Regions from separate parts of the Homo sapiens genome. Here region 2 is linked to region 1. The links come from fine-mapping of genetic effects on gene expression. Tissue or cell type: fibroblasts. Region 1 holds a variant in brackets; the other region holds the start of a gene. All regions are shown on one strand. Distances are from middle to middle.

Evidence for each region. PIP is the estimated chance that this variant, and not a neighbour inherited with it, causes the effect.
Region 2: HERC5 starts here. The variant in region 1 is fine-mapped to the expression of HERC5 in fibroblasts (GTEx, PIP above 0.99).

What each region holds. Positions count from the first base shown.
Region 1 is chr4:87,707,551-87,713,132 of GRCh38, reverse strand. All of the region lies in intron 2 of DMP1-AS1 (DMP1 and DSPP antisense RNA 1), which reads left to right. Among named protein-coding and RNA genes, the nearest start is that of DMP1-AS1, 22 kb to the left of the region's middle. RefSeq lists an enhancer at 1,868-2,470. The variant C/T (reference allele first, on the strand shown) is at 2,696.
Region 2 is chr4:88,453,600-88,459,181 of GRCh38, reverse strand. It overlaps HERC5 (HECT and RLD domain containing E3 ubiquitin protein ligase 5), which reads right to left and starts at 2,063. Exons shown (of 23, transcript NM_016323.4): 1 at 1,648-2,063. The coding sequence starts at 1,912. The region is part of intron 1 of LOC102723458 (a long non-coding RNA gene); the gene reads left to right. RefSeq lists an enhancer at 2,004-2,433.

The sequences.
Region 1 (5,582 bases):
ATTCAGGAGCAGGTTGTTCAGTTTCCATGTAGTTGAGCGGTTTTGAGTGAGATTCTTAATCCTGAGTTCTAGTTTGATTACACTGTGGTCTGAGAGATAGTTTGTTATAATTTCTGTTCTTTTACATTTGTTGAGGAGAGCTTTACTTCCAAGTATGTGGTCAATTTTGGAATAGGTGTGGTGTGGTGCTGAAAAAAATGTATATTCTGTTGATTTGGGGTGGAGAGTTCTGTAGATGTCTATTAGGTCCACTTGGTGCAGAGCTGAGTTCAATTCCTGGGTATCCTTGTTGACTTTCTGTCTCATTGATCTGTCTAATGTTGACATTGGGGTGTTAAAGTCTCCCATTATTAATGTGTGGGAGTCTAAGTCTCTTTGTAGGTCACTCAGGACTTGCTTTATGAATCTTGGTGCTCCTGTATTGGGTGCATATATATTTAGGATAGTTAACTCTTCTTGTTGAATTGATCCCTTTACCATTATGTAATGGCCTTCTTTGTCTCTTTTGATCTTTGTTGGTTTAAAGTCTGTTTTATCAGAGACTATGATTGCAACCCCTGCCTTTTTTTGTTTTTCATTTGCTGGTAGATCTTCCTCCATCCTTTTATTTTGAGCCTGTGTGTGTCTCTGCATGTGAGATGGGTTTCCTGAATACAGCACACTGATGGGTCTTGACTCTTTATCCAATTTGCCAGTCTGTGTCTTTTAATTGGAGCATTTAGTCCATTTACATTTAAAGTTAATATTGTGATGTGTGAATTTGATCCTGTCATTATGATGTTAGCTGGTTATTTTGCTTGTTAGTTGATGCAGTTTCTTCCTAGTCTTGATGGTCTTCACATTTTGGCATGATTTTGCAGCGGCTGGTACCTGTTGTTCCTTTCCATGTTTAGCGCTTCCTTCAGGAGCTCTTTTAGGGCAGGCCTGGTGGTGACAAAAATCTCTCAGCGTTTGCTTGTCTGTAAAGGATTTTATTTCTCCTTCACTTATGAAGCTTAGTTTGGCTGGATATGAAATTCTGGGTTGAAAATTCTTTTCTTTAAGAATGTTGATTATTGGTCCCCACTCTCTTCTGGCTGATAGTGTTTCTGTCAAGAGATCTGCTGTTAGTCTGATGGGCTTCCCTTTGTGGATAACCCGACCTTTCTCTCTGGCTGCCCTTAACATTTTTTCCTTCATTTCAACTTTGGTCAATCTGACAATTATGTGTCTTGGAGTTGCTCTTCTCGAGGAGTATCTTTGTGGCGTTCTCTGTATTTCCTGAATTTGAACATTGGCCTGCCTTGCTAAATTGGGGAAGTTCTCCTGGATAATATCCTGCAGAGTGTTTTCCAACTTGGTTCCACTCTCCCCATCACTTTCAGGTACACCAATCAGACGTAGATTTGGTCTTTTCACATAGTCCCATATTTCTTGGAGGCTTTGCTCATTTCTTTTTATTCTTTTTTCTCTAAACTTCCCTTCTCACTTCATTTCATTCATTTCATCTTCCATCACTGATACCCTTTCTTCCAGTTGATCACATCAGCTCCTGAGGCTTCTGCATTCTTCACATAGTTCTCGAGCCTTGGTTTTCAGCTCCATCAGCTCCTTTAAGCACTTCTCTGTATTGGTTATTCTAGTTATAGATTCTTCTGAATTTTTTTCAAAGTTTTCAACTTCTTTGCCTTTGGTTTGAATGTCCTCCCGTAGCACAGAGTAATTTGATCGTCTGAAGCCTTCTTCTCTCAGCTCGTCAAAGTCATTCTCCATCCAGCTTTGTTCCGTTGCTGCTGAGGAACTGCGTTCCTTTGGAGGAGGAGAGGTGCTCTGCTTTTTAGAGTTTCCAGTTTTTCTGTTCTGTTTTTTCCCCATCTTTGTGGTTTTATCTACTTTTGGTCTTTGATGATGGTGATGTACAGATGGGTTTTTGGTGTGGATGTCCTTTCTGTTTGTTAGTTTTCCTTCTAACAGACAGGACCCTCAGCTGCAGGTCTGTTGGAATACCCTGCTGTGTGAGGTGTCAGTGTGCCCCTGCTGGGGGGTGCCTCCCAGTTAGGCTGCTCGGGGGTCAGGGGTCAGGGACCCACTTGAGGAGGCAGTCTGCCCATTCTCAGATCTCCAGCTGCGTGCTGGGAGAACCACTGCTCTCTTCAAAGCTGTCAGACAGGGACATTTAAGTCTGCAGGGGTTACTGCTGTCTTTTTGTTTGTGTGTGCCCTGCCCCCAGAGGTGGAGCCTACAGAGGCAGGCAGGCCTCCTTGAGCTGTGGTGGGCTCCACCCAGTTGGAGCTTCCTGGCTGCTTTGTTTACCTAAGCAAGCCTGGGCAATGGCGGGCGCCCCTCCCCCAGCCTCGCTGCCACCTTGCAGTTTGATCTCAAACTGCTGTGCTAGCAATCAGCGAGACTCCGTGGGCGTAGGACCCTCCGAGCCAGGTGCGGGATATAATCTTGTGGTGCCCCATTTTTTAAGCCAGTCGGAAAAGCGCAGTATTCGGGTGGGAGTGACCCGATTTTCCAGGTGCGTCCGTCACCCCTTTCTTTGACTCGGAAAGGGAACTCCCTGACCCCTTGCGCTTCCCAAGTGGGGCAATGCCTCGCCCTGCTTCGGCTCGCGCACGGTGCGCGCACCCACTGACCTGCACCCACTATCTGGCACTCCCTAGTGAGATGAACCCGGTACCTCAGATGGAAATGCAGAAATCACCATCTTCTG[C/T]GTCGCTCACGCTGGGAGCTGTAGACCGGAGCTGTTCCTATTCGGCCATCTTGGCTCCTGTCCCTGATAGCTTTTTCATAACGTTAAAAGTGAGTATGTAAAATGATTTGAATCACACTTTTAAAACCAAAGATAAAGGCTAAGACAAGATTTTCCAGATACTTGGTAAGATTTGGGGAAAAAAATTTCTGCAAACAAATTTTAAAAATCCATACTGGAGAAAAAATGAGGTAATATAATGAATACTAAAGTCATGTTTTAAGGAATGTTTTATCTGGAGTTTACCATCTTATAACAAATATTTTTGAAGCTGAAGTTAACACCTGTAATGGTATCTGTAGGTCAGTGGACTGATTCAGAGGCAAAGGGCTGTTTTGCTTAAATATCATGCCACCTAATTAGACTCTACACTTTTTAATTTAAAAAATTCTAGTTTCTTTTTAGTTAGAATTAAAATGAACATGAAAATTGATAAGCAAATATATAAAAGAGCTATAATATGTAACTGCTTCTTATCAGTCACTGGTTATTTATTAAATATTTATTTGTGTCCACAGTTGTGCCAAGTTCTAAGGAAATGTGAATGAAATATGAAAACATGATTTTAAACTTTAATAGACTTTCTGTTAATTAGGGGGAGGGATGCAAAACAACAATTTTGTTTTGTTCTGTTTTGAGACAAAGTCTCACTTGTTGCCCAGGCTGGAGTGCAGCAGCGCCATGATGGCTCACTGCAGCCTCGTCGGGTGATCCTCGCACCTCAGCCTCTCGAGTAGCTGGGACCACAGGCATGAACACCATGCTCAGCTCATTTTTGTATCTTTTGTAGAGACAGGGTTTTGCTGTGTTGCCCAGGCTGGTATCGAACTACTCGGCTCAAGCAAACCACCTACTTCAGCCTCCCAAAATGTTGGGATTACAGGTGTGAGCCACTGCACCCGGCAAAAACAACAGTTCTGACTATATCATTTCAAAAATTTCCAGTGACCCCCTCTTTTAACCAGTGATACCATTACATGGTATTTAAGGACTTCCTCCATGTACACTATCCCACAGTTCTCCTCCAGACACTCTAAAGCACAGTTAGACGACAGTGGCTCATTAGTCCTTGATAGTGCCCTCACCAGACTCCACGCCTGTGTCAGGCAGTGCCTGCCAGAGTGCTCTCTCTCTCGGTATCAGAATCTTCTACCTCAGTTAAATGAATCATTATTTCTTCCTCATTCCCTTCGTGGTAGAAGTAAGCCTTCCCTTGTCTGAATTCTTTTAGCTGTCTTTATTTCTCATGGTACTTTTTAAACTCAAAACACTACTATAACTATTTGTCTATATTTCTTATTTGCTCAACTAATATTACCTTAAGGGTTTTGTAATAGCATACTTGTCTATATATCTCCATATATGTTGCTTAACTCAGTTTCTGATTTATAATATGTATTTAAACATGTAGTAGTTGAATGAATGCACATTTGAAATAATTAGGCAATAACTAAGAATAATAATTGTGTGGCACTAAATGCAGATAACAAGAGAGTAAAAGGAATTTGAAGGAGAGGGTTAAATCACTTGAAAGTGGGCTATAATAGTCTAAGCAGACTAAATGGAGGATTTAAGCTTGGTTTGGATCTTTAGGGCTGATGGTGCAAATTGGAACCAGAGTGGCTAAGAACAAATAGAAGTAGGAGTGTGGCTGCCAGATTAGAAGAGGAGAAGAAAGAAAACAAAAGGTAAGGATACAAGAGGAAAGTTTCGGGAATTACCTAATGATATGGCTAGGCAGGAAACACGCAGGCCATAAGACCAGACTTGATTAGCTGGAAGCCCAGAAAGTAAGCTCTGCTTTCAGGATTCAGGCTGTTTGTAGAGAAGTAACATGTTCAAGAGAAAAAGAATGGAGTTTTGTGTTTAAAAAGGGCTGGATCTGATATCAGTTTCACTATCGTTTTTGTTAGGCATGGGATTCACTAATCCTGCGTTTTCTCATCAATAAAATGGGAGTTATAACTCCCACACAATTTGGTTGTTATGGGGGTTAATTAAGATACTATGTGGGAAGTTCTTGACACAGAGCTCTCAGTAAAAGATGACCATCATTAATGTTTGCTATGGGCTCCAATTTGAACACTTGTTAGGTATGTTGTCTCCAGTCCATTAGCAGCCAGATGGTCTCTGGGACTTGTCCTGTTCCTGATTATTGCAGAAAAAGCCTTTCTCAAATTAAGATGGAGATCCTGATAGAAATGATCATGATGATGATGATGACGATGAAAATTATAACAGAACTTATAGTAGCTAATATTAATTGAGTGCTTATTATGTGATAGGAACCATGTTAATTGTCTCATAAGAATTACAGCATTTAATCCTAACAAAAATGTGTATTGTAAATGAAACAACTGGGACTGATTTTTGAGCATTGTAGCAGGGGTCCTTTGGAACAAAATGTGTCTAGATCCCAGGAATCCCAGTCACTAGAAATACAGTGGAAGCCAGAACAGGGAGGCCAGGCGCAGGGAAAAGGCCCCTAGATGAAGAGACTTACCCCACCATGGAATCCAAGACAGTAGTCAAAAGGGGTAGGAGTCTCAGATCTGACCAAGGAGGGGCTTTCTACCAGGGACTCTGATCCAGCAAGCAGGCCAGGGTATGGGGGAGCCCAGGCAGCAGGCACTGCTTTAGGCAGGTGGTGGAACTGTGATTCCAAGCAGGGGCCTTCTCAGCAGCAGGAGATTACAGGAAGCAAGATACTGCCTCCCTGGGGAAAGAGTTTAGCAAGAGCTACGCATGATAAGGACACCATCTCATGAACTAGGGCAAAAATGTCAAAAATCTGTGTCTCTTGTACAATTTGAGCAAGGAAATGGCCCCCGGAAGCCTGTGTTTGAGA
Region 2 (5,582 bases), 750 kb before region 1:
GGAAAGACAACGGTCTTGACATAGATTTTTTTTAATTAGAAAAAATATTGATGTATACTTTGTTGTAAATGGAACATACCCTTAAAATATCCAATTAAATATCTGCTTTTAGGTTCTTGTTTATTAAGACGAACGAAATTTGAAATGACAAAGATGAAAAGGTCTATAAGAAAATATAACTTTAAGACAACATAATCTCATTTCAAGAACAAATAGTGTATTCTGAAACACATTCCTTTCTCCCAAAAAGCAAATAACAGTAATAAACACTTCCCGACAGTTACCAATAGAAACCAATGCCTATATTCTTAAAAGGAAGGATTATGTTTGGGGGACTATCTTTAAAGAGGATGCTGTTGAAAACATTTTTCATTGGCATTAGTGCACATTTGGCCCTTTCTGAAGTTAAGAGATTAAACTGTCCACTAGTAAAAATGTACTCTTATTTAATTTGTTCACAAAAATTAAACTAGGATAGTTTTGGGACCTTGTTTCATCTTCAGTGCTAATGAAATAGAATCTATTCGTGTAAAAATCTCAAAGCACAAACCATATTACAAATGCTAGGGGAACCAAAACAGTTTGGTAATAAGAAATGGTCCAGCAGACTAACGGTTTCTTTTAAAGAGTCTCAGCATTTCAAATCAGTTGAAAAAAAGGAAGTATTAAGAAATGGTATTGGGACATAGGCTAAGCCTTTGGAAAAGCAAATAAATCTAGCTCCCCTCCTACCTCAGTACTGAAAATTCCAAGCGTACGAAAAATTTTAACTTAAAAAAAAAAACCTTAAAATTACTACAAAAATGAGTACATTTTTTAAAACACTGGGAGTGTGGATAGCTTTCCAGCCTAACATAAAACCCATAAGCCTTAACAGACAAAAAAATTGACAGACTACCCCCCAAAAAATGCACTAAAAACAACATGCACAAAAGGCAAAGTGAGAAAAATATTACATGTACGACGTGCAAAAGGCTATTCTTATTCAATATTCAAATACCTCTTCCATACAAATAAGAAAAAGATTTAACAACTCAAATTTCTAAAAGCCAGGCAAAGATAAACAGGCAATTTACCGAAAAAGGAACGCAAACGTCCAGTAGTTAAACGCAAAATAAACTCGCAGCAAGATACCAATTTCTTCACTCCACAGATGGGCAAAATTTTAAAGAACGCGGGCAACTATTTCCCCCACTTCGATGAGAATGTGGGAGAAGTGCAACTGAAGGCCAAGGTAAAATCCCATCACTGAGAACGACTCCCAAAGTTGGAGCAGTGACTACTTTCTCAAAACGAGACAGTGGGAGATGCGGCGGGCGGGGGACGGGGGTACAAACTTGAACAGAAACCTATGAGAAAGCCAGACTGGCTAAAAGGATGAAGACGGTGCCCGCATGCCCCGCACCGGCCACTTTGCTGAGCGGAGGATCCGCTGGTCGCCAGTATCCCGCTCACCCCGCGCCTGACACTGACCGGGATAAAAGACAGCTCAGGTGCGCCGTCGGCGAAACTATCCGAGCCAGGCGCGCGTCTGCGGCCTTCTGGGCTCTCCTCCCTCAGGCGCGGACCCCCGGCTGCCCGCCCCTCACAGCCCTCAGCCCTCACCCCTCACAGCCCTCACAGCCCTCACACACCAGCCCCACTCACTCGGCGTCCGGGCGCCGCCGCTCCCGGCGAGCAGCTGGTGAACCTGGACGCCCGCCCCGCCGCGTTCCAAGACCGCGAGGCGCCCCGGCGAGCAGCAGAGTTGGCGCGTCACCTCCACCCTCCGGAGCAGCGCGCGGTGGAGGCCCGCGGCGCTGGGAAAGAGCCAGAGCTGTGCGCCCGGAGACTTCGCGGGCTGGGTCGCGGCGGCCTTGCCCGCGGTCGAGCGCCCGTTGCGCCGCGACTTCCTCCGCGACCTCCGCTCCATCGCCGCTTTGCGGGGTCCCAGGCCCAGAGGCGAGAGGAGAGAACGCCTGGTCCCGGGACTGAGCGCGCCCACTGCCTCAGGCGTTGCGCTGCAGAGCGGGAACCAGCTGCGCGCAGCTGCGTGGCGTCGGGGAACCGCAGCCTCAGCTACTGAGCCCCTGCCGGGACGCCACGCCCCCCACGTGCTGTTTGGGGGCGGGGCCTGCAGCTCCAGTGGAAAACGAAACATAATGTTTGTTGTTGTTTTTAGGGGGCGGAATCGAAAAGGAAAAGGAAACTGTAATGAGAGTGACTTGGCAGGCGGCCAAAGGCAACAGGTCGTTGGCTGGGGTAAAGGCCGATGGGCTGGACTGAGAAAGTGTCCCCGGGCGGGCAGCGGCCACCTTAACTCCTGGACGGAATGGCTTTCGAGGAAACGCTGCAGTTCCACTAGGAGGCACCCTGACACACGCATTTCCAGAGGGAGGGATAACGGAAGCCAAAGTTTGTTAAGCGTTGTGCGCCGCGGCCGGGCGCGGTGATTCACGCCTGTAATCCCAGCACTTTGGGGGGCCGAGGCGGGCGGATCACGACGTCAGGAGATCGAGACCATTCTGGCTAACACGGTGAAACCCCGTCTCTACTAAAAATACAAAAACAAAATTAGCTGGGCGTGGTGGCGGGCGCCTGTAGTCCCAGCTACTCGGGAGGCTGAGGTGGGAGAATGGCGGGAACCCGGGAGGCGGAGTTTGCAGTGAGCCGAGATTGCGCCACTGCACTCCAGCCTGGGCGACAGAGCGAGACTATGTATCAAAAAAAAAAATGCGTTGTGCGCCGGGCTGAAACCGGCATAAAACTGGGCAGAGCTATGCAGGCAGCTACCCTCCCCCCCACCCCTACCCCCACCCCCACCCCCCTCGTGCCCGCTCCGCTACGTATTCCCGTATTCCCGGGTGCCTGGCAACAGTGATGTGCTTTAGGCCTTTTTTAGAATGCATACAAACGGAACCATATCTAAGTGATGTCTGGCTTTTTTAACTTAGCACAATGCTTTGAGATTCATACTATTGTGTTTAATTAGTAATTCATTTGTGTTATTGTTGAATGGTAGTCTATCATATGGGTAAGCCACAGTTTATTTATCCATTCACCAATTGATGGGCCTGTCGGTTGTAGGGAACAGGAGAAAACTTCCCCTTTGCCCTCTGAAGGGTCACCGAAAATCAACTGACAAGGCTGGGCCTGGGCTCCTGCCTGTAACCCCAGCCCTTTTTTAGCCCAAGGCAGGAGGATCTCTTCTTTGTGAAGTGTGTATTCAAATCTTTTGACCATTTATTTATTAGCTAGCTTGACTTTTTATCTAAGAGTTCTTTATATATTATTGAGTTCTTTATATGTTTCATACCATGTTCTTTATTAGCTATACGTTTTGAAATGTTTTCTACCTGTCTGTGGCTTGCCTCTTCATTTTAAGTGTCTTTTGAAGCACTGAAGTTTTCAATTTTGATGTAATTTATCCATTTTTTTCTTTTACATAGTTCATACCTTTTTTGTCCTACTTAAGACATTTTTGCTAAATTCAAGATTATAAGATTTCCTCATTTGTTACCTTCTGGAAGTTTTATAATTGTTGGTCTTCATTATATTTAAAATGAATTATTCTTTATAGTATCGATAGATGCTGGAGGCAGATAAGGGAGGGTCCCTGGAGAATCTCTGACCTGCCTCACAAGCTTTTGTGCAGCTGAGGAAGCCTGCCCAGGGTCTTGTCTGGGCATGCCCACAAGGGACTTGGGGGCCCACTGCACCAGGAGAGTGGGGTGCAGCCAGAGGGAATTCAGCCTTATGCAGCAGGGATGAGCAAGAAGTCTTCAGCTTGTGTGTGTTGGCCTGTTATTCAGTCTGTGAGCTGGGAGCCTGTTGGCAGGACCCTCCTTGTTTTTTTGCTAAGAGCTTTTAATAAATGCCACTCTTCACCTTGCAATGTATTCACATGCCTAATTGTTCCTGGTCATGAGACAAGAACCTGGATTTTAGCTGAGCTAAGGAGCAAAAATTCCTGCATCAGTATGAGGTAAGAATAAAGGTTCTTTTTTTTCCTTATGGATTTCCAGTCGTTCCAGCTTGCCTATCCCCATGGAATTGCCTTGGCATCCCTGTCAAAACTCAGCTGGCCGTATATTATAACCTCAGAGCCAGCCCAAACTGGCCCTACTCTGTTGATAACAAAATGGCCAGTTACCCTGTAGGTATAACAGAGCCAAAACTGCAAGTTATGTAGACTGGGCATGTGCCATGGAAAAAGCTTTGACCTCTAACAATGAAACGGGAAAGGTTCCCTTGTCCCCTTCGTAGGGCATGCGGCAGTGGGAGTGGGTCGCTTCTTCAGTGCCCCACTGCTCACACCTCTAGGGGAGCATACAGACAGGCAGGTTTTGGGGCTCCAACCCCACGCCAGTGTCTAGGGGTGGATGTTTACTGCTCCTGAAGCACCAGTGGGCTGTGCTACTGTGTGCTTTTTTAGTTTTGCTGTCTATAGGCACTTGTGTTAACCAGCTCAATTAGACCCTCTACCTTGTCACAAGGACAGAAGACTTTCTGTATCCCAGGTTCTTGCCTTGGTGTACCAGAAGAATTGTATCACATGTGGGCTTAGAGAATGAGTGCACGGTTTTATTGAGTGGAAGTAGCTCTCAGCAGATGGGGGAGCCAGAAGGGAGTTGGTTTTCCCCTGGAGTTGAGCCGCTCAGCGGCCCAGGCTGTCCTCCGACTGCCCTGGCCAAACTCCGCATTGTTCTGCTGGTCGATGGCCTGCCAGTGCTAGTGCCTTTAGAATGGTACTTGCCACACAGTACCTACTATAAGTAATTATTCAATGAATTAATGAATCCCTTAACATTCAGATTTTTCAAATAAATTATTCAGCACTTTGCTAAAATAAAAACTCTAGAGATATTCCTGAATATAAAATATATATCTAGCAAGGTTAGGGATATAGGAAATGTTGCTTTACATAACATTGTTTTATTAAAAATATTATTCTTGGCTCACACCTGTAATCCCAGCACTTGGGAGGCAAGGCAGGAGAATTTCTTAAGCCCAGGATTTCAAGACCAGCCTGGGCAACATAGTGAGACCTCGTCTCTTAAAAAAAAATTATTCTTGATTCATCACTTTATTATTTATCCAAACATTTTTCAACTAATTCTCTTTTTTTAAATTGTAAATTGGCAATTTATAATTGTATACATTTATGGGGAACAAAGTGATCTTATAATTTATGAATAACAATGTGGAATAATTAAATCAAGCTAGTTCCCACATCCATCACCTCAAATACTTAACAATTTTTGTGGTGAAAACATTTGAAATTTTATCTCTTCGGTATTTTGAAAAGTGCAATACTGTATTGTTAATTATATTTACCACACTGTGCAATCGAACTCAAAAAAAAAAGAATGAACACATTCATCTCGTTTCTGGGTTAAGTGTTCTGATGGTGAGGTGTCCAGGTCTTGGCACATTGAACAAAGAATTGAACAACACACATGAACAAGCGGTGAAGGAGTGAATTTATGAAAGTGGAAGATAGTGGGCCGGGCGCAGTGGCTCACACCTGTAATCCCAGCACTTTGGGAGGCCGAGACGGGCGGATCACGAGGTCAGGACATCGAGACCATCCTGGCTAACGC